Regions from separate parts of the Homo sapiens genome. Here region 1 is linked to region 2. Evidence: fine-mapped expression QTL. Tissue or cell type: whole blood. Region 2 holds a variant in brackets; the other region holds the start of a gene. All regions are shown on one strand. Distances are between the middles of the regions.

Region 1 (5,151 bases), 140 kb after region 2:
TTTTTAGGAAGGCTAAATAGAAGCTATTCCTCAAACTCAGCCATGGTATGATATGATGCGGCATTATTATAACAGAGAAAAGTAGCGGTGTGCTGAAGGCAGTTCACACAGGCTGGTGGGCCAAATTGTTACATTTCAAGGAATTTTGCAAGCTGTTTGATATCAGTTTTGCTAGCTGGTTGAAGGCCTGTAGAATAGGTTATTGTAGGAGTATTTACATCACAGTAAACAAAGCAGTCTGAGGCCCCCTCCTGCCTCCTCACCCCCAGCCCAAACCAGTTAAGCATTTACCAAGATATCACTGGATAAGAGATTGGTTTAGAAATAGAGAACAAAGGGTGGGACCAATGGGATAAATGCTGAAGAATTATAAATAGATAGCTTCCTCAGAGTTAGGTATTGGGTCTAATCCTGTTTAGCATTTTAATAAATTCCCTAGAGAGAGGTAGTATACAGAGAAATGTCCATGCCTTTCAGATGACATTAAATGTTTCCAGAGTTAAACTATAAACCCATGGGATTAACACCCAGAACTCTTAGTAAAACTGTGTGAGTTCTAATAAGGCAAGAGTAAGGCAATTTGGGGGAAAATTATCTTAAAATTCTCTTGTTAGGTGATAATATCTAACCTTTGCGTTACAACCTAGAAATGAAATTTAGAGATTTCTGTAGACGTTTTCTATGTTCATTAGTATAACTTGTTAGCTGTGATAAAAAGGCCACTTAAATGCCAAGTTCCATCAGAAGCTCTAGAAACCAAGAACAAGAACTGTCCCACTCTTAGAAAGAAAACTTAGTGCACACTTCCTGCAGTTTTGGTTGACATGCTTCAAGGATAATGTAATGGAACTGGAAGAGTTTCAGAGAAAATTGCATAACCTGGTTAGGGTATTATAGGAATCCCAGATGAGGCTGAAGATTATATTAACTAGCAAATCATGAAAGGTCTTGAATAAGGTAAATATAGCTGTATTAAGCAATTCCTGAAAAACTGGAACTATAGTGCACCTCCTTGATCTTTGAAATAAGAATTTATAGAAGTAATAGAAATATGCTATTGTTTCTCAAGGAAAAGAAGAAATGATAGCAACCTTAAAGTTTAACTTTTATCAGTATTTAAAAATTATTACAGTTACATATTTTGAATGTGCAAAAGGTACTGTATATTTCCTCTGATCAGTGACCTCCCTTTATCAGAAAGACTGTCAAAAGGAAGAGTGAAACATTCTCCCTCTTAACTTACCTTTAACCACTTTTGTTTGTTTGTTTTTTTCTTACGGCAACTCAAAGCAAAGAGCTGGAGGAGCCAGCCATTATAATTGCTTACTCTCATCGCTTAGCGCCCCAGGTGGGATGTGTTTCCAAAACACATTTTTGTATTTATAAGGAAATGTAGTTAGGATTAATTTTATTGTCCTAATTAGAACTCACATTTTGGTTAAATCCTCAATTTCATTAAAAAAAAAAAAATCAGTGTTTCTTAAGAGTGAATTAGGCAAAGGGAAGAAGACAATGGATCACACTTTTTTAGGGAAAAGATCTTCCTCACAGTGGTGGGTGGGCTATTTGGGTGTGAAAAAACATAGGGCAACTTAATTAACCATGACAAAACAGACAAGTAAGTGCCTTTCAAAAAAATCAAACAAGGCTCTGCACGATCTTAATAATAAAAATTTTAGAAAAAAATGATTTTCATGTTAGTTCAGAGTTGATTGTCTAGGATAAATTAAAAAATGAAAGCTGTGGTAAATGACCTAAATATATTGCACTTTCTGATATTTTTTACATTTTAATGAAATATATGCCTTCAGCAAAGTGCACACATCATTACAGACATCTCAATGAATTTTCATAAAATGAACACATCCAGTAACCACCATCCAATCTAATGCACCATATACAGATGTTCCATATACTGTATATATATATACACACATTATATATATATAGCATGAAGATTACTTATACTAATTAATCATTAACTGTAAATATGAAGAATATTTATTTGTATTCATATTTTTAAGAAGATTGAGATTTAACAGGATATTATAGAAGGGTTTAATTCACCTTTCAAGTTTGTTATAGTTTTTTTCCCCTTTTGTGTATTTTAATCACTTTATTTCACAGTAATTCTTTTGAAATAAAGGAGAGGTCAGCACTCCAGAGTTTTAGGTGGGAGACAGCAAAAAGTATATTTTGTTGATCTCACACGTAGACCTACCATTTAGATTTGTTGTCAAGCCTGATTGAGGCCATTAGTGCCGTTTTTAAAAAATTATATTTGTTAAAAGGAAGATAATTTTTAAAACGAGAAAAAAATGGGCACAAGACATGAGAGTGCCACAATACTGCAAATAGAATGTAAGGAAGGAAATAACTTTTAAGAAACAAATTTTGTTAAATTAAGTACCGTGACTAAATACTTTAATTCCTTTTCTTGTAGCCCGTAAGGATCATTTGACTTTGAACCTTTTAAGTCAAAGAGGAGTAGTCTGAAAGCCTGAACTCCCTACCACCCTGAGGGGGTGCGGGTGCGGCGGGGCCGGCTGGGGGCTTCCCCCACCCCCTGCTCCTGCGCCCTCCCCCCGCTTCCCCCTCCTCCCCTCCCTATCGCCCTCACCCCCCTTCTTCCCCCGTGACCCCTGACCCCAGCTAATCTGCATAGAGGAATGACAGGCATCCGCTGGGCAGGATCCGCCGCGCCGGCTGCGGCCGGCCGGGCTGGGAGACCCGCGCGGGGTAGAAGGTGAGGGGACCCGGCGGGCCGCTCGGCACAGGCCGGGACATGAACGCCTGGAAGTCTGGCTGGGAGCGGACCCATGATCGAAGGACCAAAGGAGCCGCTTGATCGCTGGACCTGGCCCTGCGACCCCAGTCATGGGCCAGACCTCGGTGTCCACGCTGTCCCCGCAGCCCGGCAGCGGTGAGTCCGGGGCGCACGCGATGCGCTCCCGCCGCGCGGGCGCAGGGCTGGCGGCGGGGCCCCGGGGCAGGCAGGGTTAGTCGTCTGGTCGGGTTCCGCTCGGACCCGCCAAGTCCCTCGGAGAAACCCCAGAGGTAGCGCTCGCCAAACTCTTTGTCGTGAAAGAGGAATGCCTTTTGGGATCCAGCCGATTTTACCTTAAAGGCACAGGCTCCATTTTTCTGTGCGCGATGCCTCGCTGTGGTTTTTTATCCAAATTATTTCGGAGCCAGAAACTTACGGGAAACGCCATTTGCGTATTACAGTGTTTTTAAAAACGCGAAACTTAGAGAGCAAGAGAAACATGCCAACAGGTTTTTCTGTATTTACGCTTGGCTTCCGAACAGACTAGGACTGAATGCTTTCAAGCTTGTCAACTGATTTATGGTTTGTTATTCGGAGTAGAAGCGCTGATCGCCTTATCCTGGCAGACGCTGAATACTTAATAACTAGCCCCGAAATGCGTAATTGTTTCAAATGAGACTTGTTTTGTTTATAGTAGATACAGCAGCTATAACATTTAGGGAAACATATCTCATGAACTTAGTTCTCCAGGACTAAAGTTAGTTTTATGGAGACGTGTGTAACGTGTCTGAGTTCTAATGCTCTGTTTTAAAAGTTTCTTTTTTCCATTTTCTTAAACAAAAAGAGGGAAGGAAGGTACGTCTGGCATTTCCCCGACAGTGTAGGGATAAAAAAAAAAAAAACTGTTTGGTGGTGTTACTTGTGATTGGATAAGGAAATAAATTTAAAAGGTACTATTTTGATATTTTTCCATCAACGATTAAAAATAAATAATACTCGAAGGGACCGTTTATGTTACTCATTGAGATATTTGATACACTTTTTAAATTGTGCAAACATCAACAGGATCTTGCTGAAAGGAAATGACAGGGTACAGAGGAAGGTTTTTTAATCTGCCTCAGGATGTCTAGCTAGATAGCATTCTGTCATTCCAACCCCCCACCCCACTTTATACCCAGTGGGTTTCTTTAGGTAGCACAGCTTCACTCCCTGAGATACCACAAGCTTTGCTGAGGTTTCTGTTAATACCACAGAAGACCCTTCTGCAAAGAAGAGACATCAGAATCAGAATATACCTTCTTTACCATTAATGACATGGCTACAGCTCTGAAATCAAAGACCTCATGTTGACAGCTTTTTGAGAGATATTTGCGGGGAGGGGTTGAGTAGGATTTTAAATTTAGTAAACTATTTTGTGCAAATAAGACTTGGTTTCCTTTGTCTTACCTTAAAGTGGTGTGAGACTTCTTTTCATTTCAAGGAAGGGTTATATTTTTACATTTGTGCACCGGCGAAGATAGAATTAAATCTGTACTCCAATACAAGAGTATACAGAAAGTATTGTCCTGAATTTAGTGATTTTATCACAAAATATTACTCGAGTGAATATTAGAAAAGCAAATTTTGCCTTAATAAAAATCAAGGAATATTATATAAATGATGTCTAAGAAGCAAATAAAATCCTAAAGTGAGACTCCCTACGTCTTAGTACAGCAAAAAAACCCGGATTGCTATAATTCCAAATAAAATGACTGATTATAATGAGAAACTGTAATCTACTTAAGTAAAAAGTGTTTTAAACAAAAATTTATGCTTGATCATGAAAGATAATTCAGAGAAATATCTCACGGAACGGTGTTATACTTAAATTGCAGGTCCTCAGTTTTGCGGATTAAAAGTTTGTATGAATTGAAATGACCAATCCATACATCATAAATACAGGGTTTTTTATTTTTCAGTTAAGGAATGACAGTGGTTATGACTTAAGTTGTGGTATTGTAAAAGAACAGTTTTCTCGTGGTATCCAGTGTCTCTAAATCCGTTAGAGCTACCCTGTTTCCCTGAAGGTTTGCCATCAGATTCCAAATGAAAACCAAAAAAAAAAAAATTTAAATTAAATAACGTTTGCTGAGTTTTATATTCATGTCTGTATTTTTCTGAGTCTGAGACTGTCAAACTCTCTACTATTCCAGGTATTTTGTTCACTCCTTGTTAACTGTTTAACTCTGGCTTTACAGATGGCGTGAAGATCCTTGTTCTGTTTGATCTTAGCCATTGACTAGTTGTTTAAGTCTGGAGCAGCTGCTTAGGATTACAGTATTAAAGATGATTCTCATCTTAAATGCTTAGTGGGCGAAAATCTGTTTAAGTCAAAGGAATCAATA
Region 2 (5,151 bases):
CTCAGAGGCTGCCCTGTGCCCCGTGCACCGGGACCGACGAAATCAGGAACTCAGCTAAGGCCGATGCTGCCGGCCGAGTTGTGTGACGTTGGGCAAATCACTTAACCTTGTCTCTCCTATCTCAGTATTCAGAGTGGGAATCATAGTATGGTACCACCACATTGGGAGGTTATGTGGATTAAGTAATCATTTTAAACTGCTTTTGAACAAAGCATTAGCCTAAGAATTGTAGGACTGTTTTTTAAAAGTCCACCAGATGCGTCAAGTTTCCACCAGTTGTCTGATGTGCAATCTTTGTAGGATGCATGGGAGCTGGGAAATTAGAAATGAAGCTAGCTAGCATCAAAAACTACCCATAGCGGCAAAAGCCCTGCCGGGGCGTGAACGTGCACTGTACCAGCTACCACTGCCCTGGTTTTCAGGCTCTGTGCTCCGGGATCAGGCCTTCTTTGGGTTCTAACTCAACCTCAGCTAAAGCTGAGCTTCCTGTTCAAAAAAGCACATTTCCATGCCTCTGACTCCACTTCAGCTGGCTAACTCTCTCACCATAGCCTTCTGTCTTCTTATTCTTGTCATATTGTTTTTGCCGCCCAACATGTGTACTTGAAAAACCTCAAAAGCATTGCCGTTGTGACTTTGTAGATCGCATTGGATGAAACAAGTCAGAACTGTTAGAATAGAGGTAGTGGGATTTGTGTAAAGATTCATCCTCTGAATTTGTATTGTGAAAAGCATTGAGTCCGAATGTTTTTAACCACCTGCTCTTGGTGTGCTGGCCAAACTGAACTCGAGCCATGGATTATTTTGATTGATTTCTACAAAGATTAACTGTTCAGAGACTCTAAAGAGACCACTGAGAATTCACCTAGTTGGTGATTGTAGACAAAGTATAGCTTGCATCGCCATTTTTCATTTTCATGGATGGAAATTATGGCCTGTATGCCGAAAAAGGACAGCAAAGACATTTAAAATGTGAGTGTGCAAAGTGTACATCATGTGAACCATGGGCTCCAATTTATAAAATTATTTTACTTCTGAGGACTCTTTGTCTTTTCTGTGTCCTCTTAACGGATGCTAGGAAGTGAAACCTTTCAGCTCAGTTGTCCCATGTGCCGCAGGATGCTGGCACAGATGTAGAAGAGTGAACATCTTTCATGTACCTGATTTCATTTTCAGAACTGAGCCTCGGATCCCTTTAAGAGCAGACTAAATGTGATCAGGAGCTCCCTGCTCTTAGAGTCAGAGAGAAAAAGAATGAGCAGGTCCTTCACTGACACACAGAGTATTTCTCCAGCATGCCCCACAGCCTCTGCAGCCTCTGTAAGCCATGCAGGATGGATCTGAGAATCAGCAAGATGACTGTGCTGGGATCTCTGAATTATCTCAGAGGCACAATAAGAGGGTTACACGCCTTGTAAAAACATTCCTTGGCCTAACACTATAGTAGCCCAATTTCCAGCCCTTCTCCAGAAGCTCTGGGCACACACAGAGGCAGCACCTAGAGCAAGGTCATGTGTGGCTTGCCAAAACAGCCCCGGACCAGCATCTGTGGCCTCATCTCAGAATCTCAGGCCCCACCCTAGGCCTGCTTAACTGAATCTGCATTTTAATAAGATCCCCAGGTTGTTCTTAGTCACCTTGCAGTTTGAAAAGTGCTGCTCTCCCACACTGGTTTTCAAACTTGGCTACACGTAGGAATTGCTTGGGGAGTTAACAACGAAGCAACCTGTGGCTGGGTCGCACACCTAGGGATTCTGATTTCATTGGCATCAGGTGCATCCTGGCCATTAGATGACGCTAATGAGTAGCGAAGTTTGAGAACTGCTGTCCTGTGCCATATTATGTCACCCTGGCTTGCTGCCGTATGTCTTGTGATACCGTGATACAAGTGTAAGTTTGAAGAATTTGTTTTAGTACCTTCTCACATCCCTATTGCTACATCCTCTCTTCTACTACTGCAGTCTCCCAAGCAGCCTTCCTTGCTCCTATTTTTGATTCCAGCTAGTTGTCAGATGTTCTTCCTAAGGGATAATTTCTAATCATGAGTTAACTCCCTGCTGTGGGTCCTTAGAAGAGTGTTGAGGGGAAAAGGAAATCACCTTTTGCAGTGACAGTGACCTGAAATGGAGAAGAGGAAGGGGAAGAAAGAGTGCTTGCCAAGAGTTGTCAGAGAACAGCCTCCCTCCAGAACGACAGACCATCCTTGCTACCTGCAATCATTACCCCAGCCTCCCCCACAGCTCCACCTCCATCCTTCTTTCCAGGAAAGAATAATAAAAACTTGGAACTCAGCCTCTAAAATCTTGCCCACTGCTGCAAACAGTCAGTCTAATACTAAATATATATTTTTAAAGACCTGTTCTGTGCTAGCACTGTGTTGATAAATACCGTGAGGGTACCCCAAGAGAATCGGCTTCCCCTGACTATGCTAGATTATTACTAGATTTTTGTCAAGACAAGCGTCTCAGACTTCAAGGGATTTTATTTAATTTGTGGCTTGAGGAATTTTTCACATAAGAATGCAAGTGCTTTATCAGAAAAAAAAAACCCAAGCCAGTTTTATATTTCAAAATCTATACAAAAAAGTTAAGAAAAC[A/C]AAATATTTTCAAATAAGCAATTTTTAAAGATAGAATTGAAGTAACAGTGGAATTTATGAATAAACTCTTTTATTATGTTTATAAAAACGTGGATTCATTTTGCCATATGGTTTTTGAACTCACACTTCTGGAATTCAACAAAAGTTCTGAATTTATTTTTCTTTTTTTGAGATGGAGTCTTGCTGTGTTGTCCAAGCTGGAGTACAATGGCTGTTCGCCAGTACAACCATAGTGCACTGCAGCCTCAAACCCTGAGGCTCAAGGGATCCTGCTGCCTCAGCCTCCTGAGTAGCTGGTGTTATAGGCGCATGCCACTGCTCCCAGCCTTGGATTTTTAAAATCCAGTATTTCTTTGTAAATAAAGTGATGTTTAACTCAATTTTTAAAGTAAAATCTTGAAACAAGGTTCTCATAGTATATGGTCATGTATTCTCTTAAGTTTTAGACAGATCCTGTTCGGTATTAAGGAGCTTTGATAACTTTTTAGTGGTTTCTGATGTGCTGTTCTGATAAGCACAGTGTTTAGTAAGTAAAGAACCTGAAGACACACAGCCAGGGGCATAGACCATGTAAAGATTCAGCAAGTACCGACTGTTGGCCTACTGGGTGCCAGGTGCTGTTCTGGACCTGTGTGGGCTATAGGGAGGACCAAAAGATGTTTTTATTTTCATGTGATGATGCTTAGTCTTGCACATTGCACATTGGGCTGCATAGATCAGAGAACCATTCAAGCCACCTCCAAAAAAAGCAGTATAGGTGTGTGGACCACTTCATTAGCTTAATGTGCAAGTACAATCTCATCTTTTTATTACTGTGATTCATCTCTTCAGTATCCCTATGCCCTGGTATATATAGGCATAGGGGTAACAGCAAATCCAGGATCTTTTTCTCAAATCTTTAATTCCTGGTGTGTTCAGTGCTGAGTGGAAGTGAGAAATCTCGCATACCTCAATGTACTATCAGTTCATATGCACTGCTTCCTGGCCACTTCCATGAGATACTGCTGTCCAAGACCAGTTCTGCTGTTGGGTCACCTGTGCTGTTGGGGGAAGCTTGTGCTTGCTTATCCCTTGCTGGTGCTTCTACTATGTTTCTTACTGACCTCCAAGGTTGTAACTCTTTGAGTTGATGCTTTGTGCTCCGAAAGGGTGTCTGGGTCCCAAGAGGCTTCTGAGCCCCAGCCACGAGCTAAGCTGGAGGTGCCCTAGGCCAGGAACAATGAACACCTGCTCACTTTACATTTGTGTAACTCAGAGTGGGTTTTTTTCCAAACAAAGACCATCTGGTTCTAAGTTTACTTTCTGTCTCTCCCTGGTCAGGGAATAGCAAGGCCACCCTGCCCAGGCCAGCTCGGACAGTACAAGAGGGTGCTGGATGGAGCAGGTGCTGGTGGGCTCAGGTCCAGCCTGCGCTTTGCCCAGGTCAAGCTGTGTACCTGGTGTGGACATGTGTGCCTTCCTTCTCCCCCAGGGAGAGCACCCTTTTCTTTGCACAAAAGCCATGGGCTTCTCATCTACCCAGGAGCCTGACCGCCGGTCAGGCTTCATTCCAGAAGGGGCATCTCCTATCTGATTCTTACCAAGTTACCATAGCAGCTGATGACAGTCCTGTATCAGAGCTTGGCACATTTGAAAAATTGGCTTCACCTGTTAAGTCAGGAGGTCCTTATTAGGTCAGATTGCACCTGACCTGGGGCTGACACCAGAGAGTTGTCAGGAATTGAGGCAACCAATTCCTCTTTCTCTAGCCCTTTCCTAGGCTGGCATGGTTTCAGCAGGCTTGAGCTTCTGTTTGTCTCTCTGTTGACCAGCTTTCTTATTCTCTAATCAAAACAGATTATCTCTCCTTCATAGGTGTTTCCTCATCCATCTGCTTAAAATGGCACATCAGGGGTCCTACCTACCTGACAGCAATCTTCCTCTGTTTCCTTTTAGCTCTTGCCTTGTGTTTACCTGGGGAAAATTTCTTCATATTTCATAGTTCAAATTCTCTAGAAAAGACCTATTGTGTGAAGCCACCTTTATACAGCAAGACAGAGATCATATGCCCCATAGGTGCCTCTGGATTTGTTGCCTTTGATCAGATACTCACTGGAGCCGAAACCAGTTGTGGAGCATGAAGTCACAGTGCCAACATGGCCATGTAGAAGGGACTGAGCCTGGCCAGTTTCCATTCGTCCATTCATTCAATTAGTCTTTATTGATTACTGCTATGTGCCAGGTACTGTTCCAGGCACTGGGCATACAAAGGTGAGCAGATGTGATTCTGTGATTCTGGAGTTAGACTGAAAGCAGAGAGGATACTCAGAAAGGGTGTGGCAGGCCAGACACAGCAGTGTCTCTGGTGATCTAAGCTATAGGCCTTGCATCATGCTCAGTAAATAACATGATGATGATGATGACTGTTCTTGTTTTCAGAGGATGCATGAAGAGCTAATTTACTTAAACTAGTTAAGCTCTAGTTTGTGTCAGTACCTCAGTGGCAGCTCTGAGACAGATATTAAAGCCGTGGATTTATTCTGGCCCCTACGTACTGATGAAGATGCTGTAGGCAA

Evidence for each region. PIP is the estimated chance that this variant, and not a neighbour inherited with it, causes the effect.
Region 1: it holds the start of PHACTR2, and the variant in region 2 is fine-mapped to the expression of PHACTR2 in whole blood (TOPMed, PIP 0.96).

What each region holds. Positions count from the first base shown.
Region 1 is chr6:143,675,287-143,680,437 of GRCh38, forward strand. PHACTR2 (phosphatase and actin regulator 2) reads left to right here and starts at 2,679. Exons shown (of 13, transcript NM_001100164.2): 1 at 2,679-2,923. The coding sequence starts at 2,878. RefSeq lists an enhancer at 2,023-2,871 and a silencer at 2,621-2,920.
Region 2 is chr6:143,538,168-143,543,318 of GRCh38, forward strand. It overlaps a transcript of PHACTR2 not described here. Among named protein-coding and RNA genes, the nearest start is that of PHACTR2-AS1, 29 kb to the right of the region's middle. RefSeq lists an enhancer at 1,021-1,070. The variant A/C (reference allele first, on the strand shown) is at 2,597.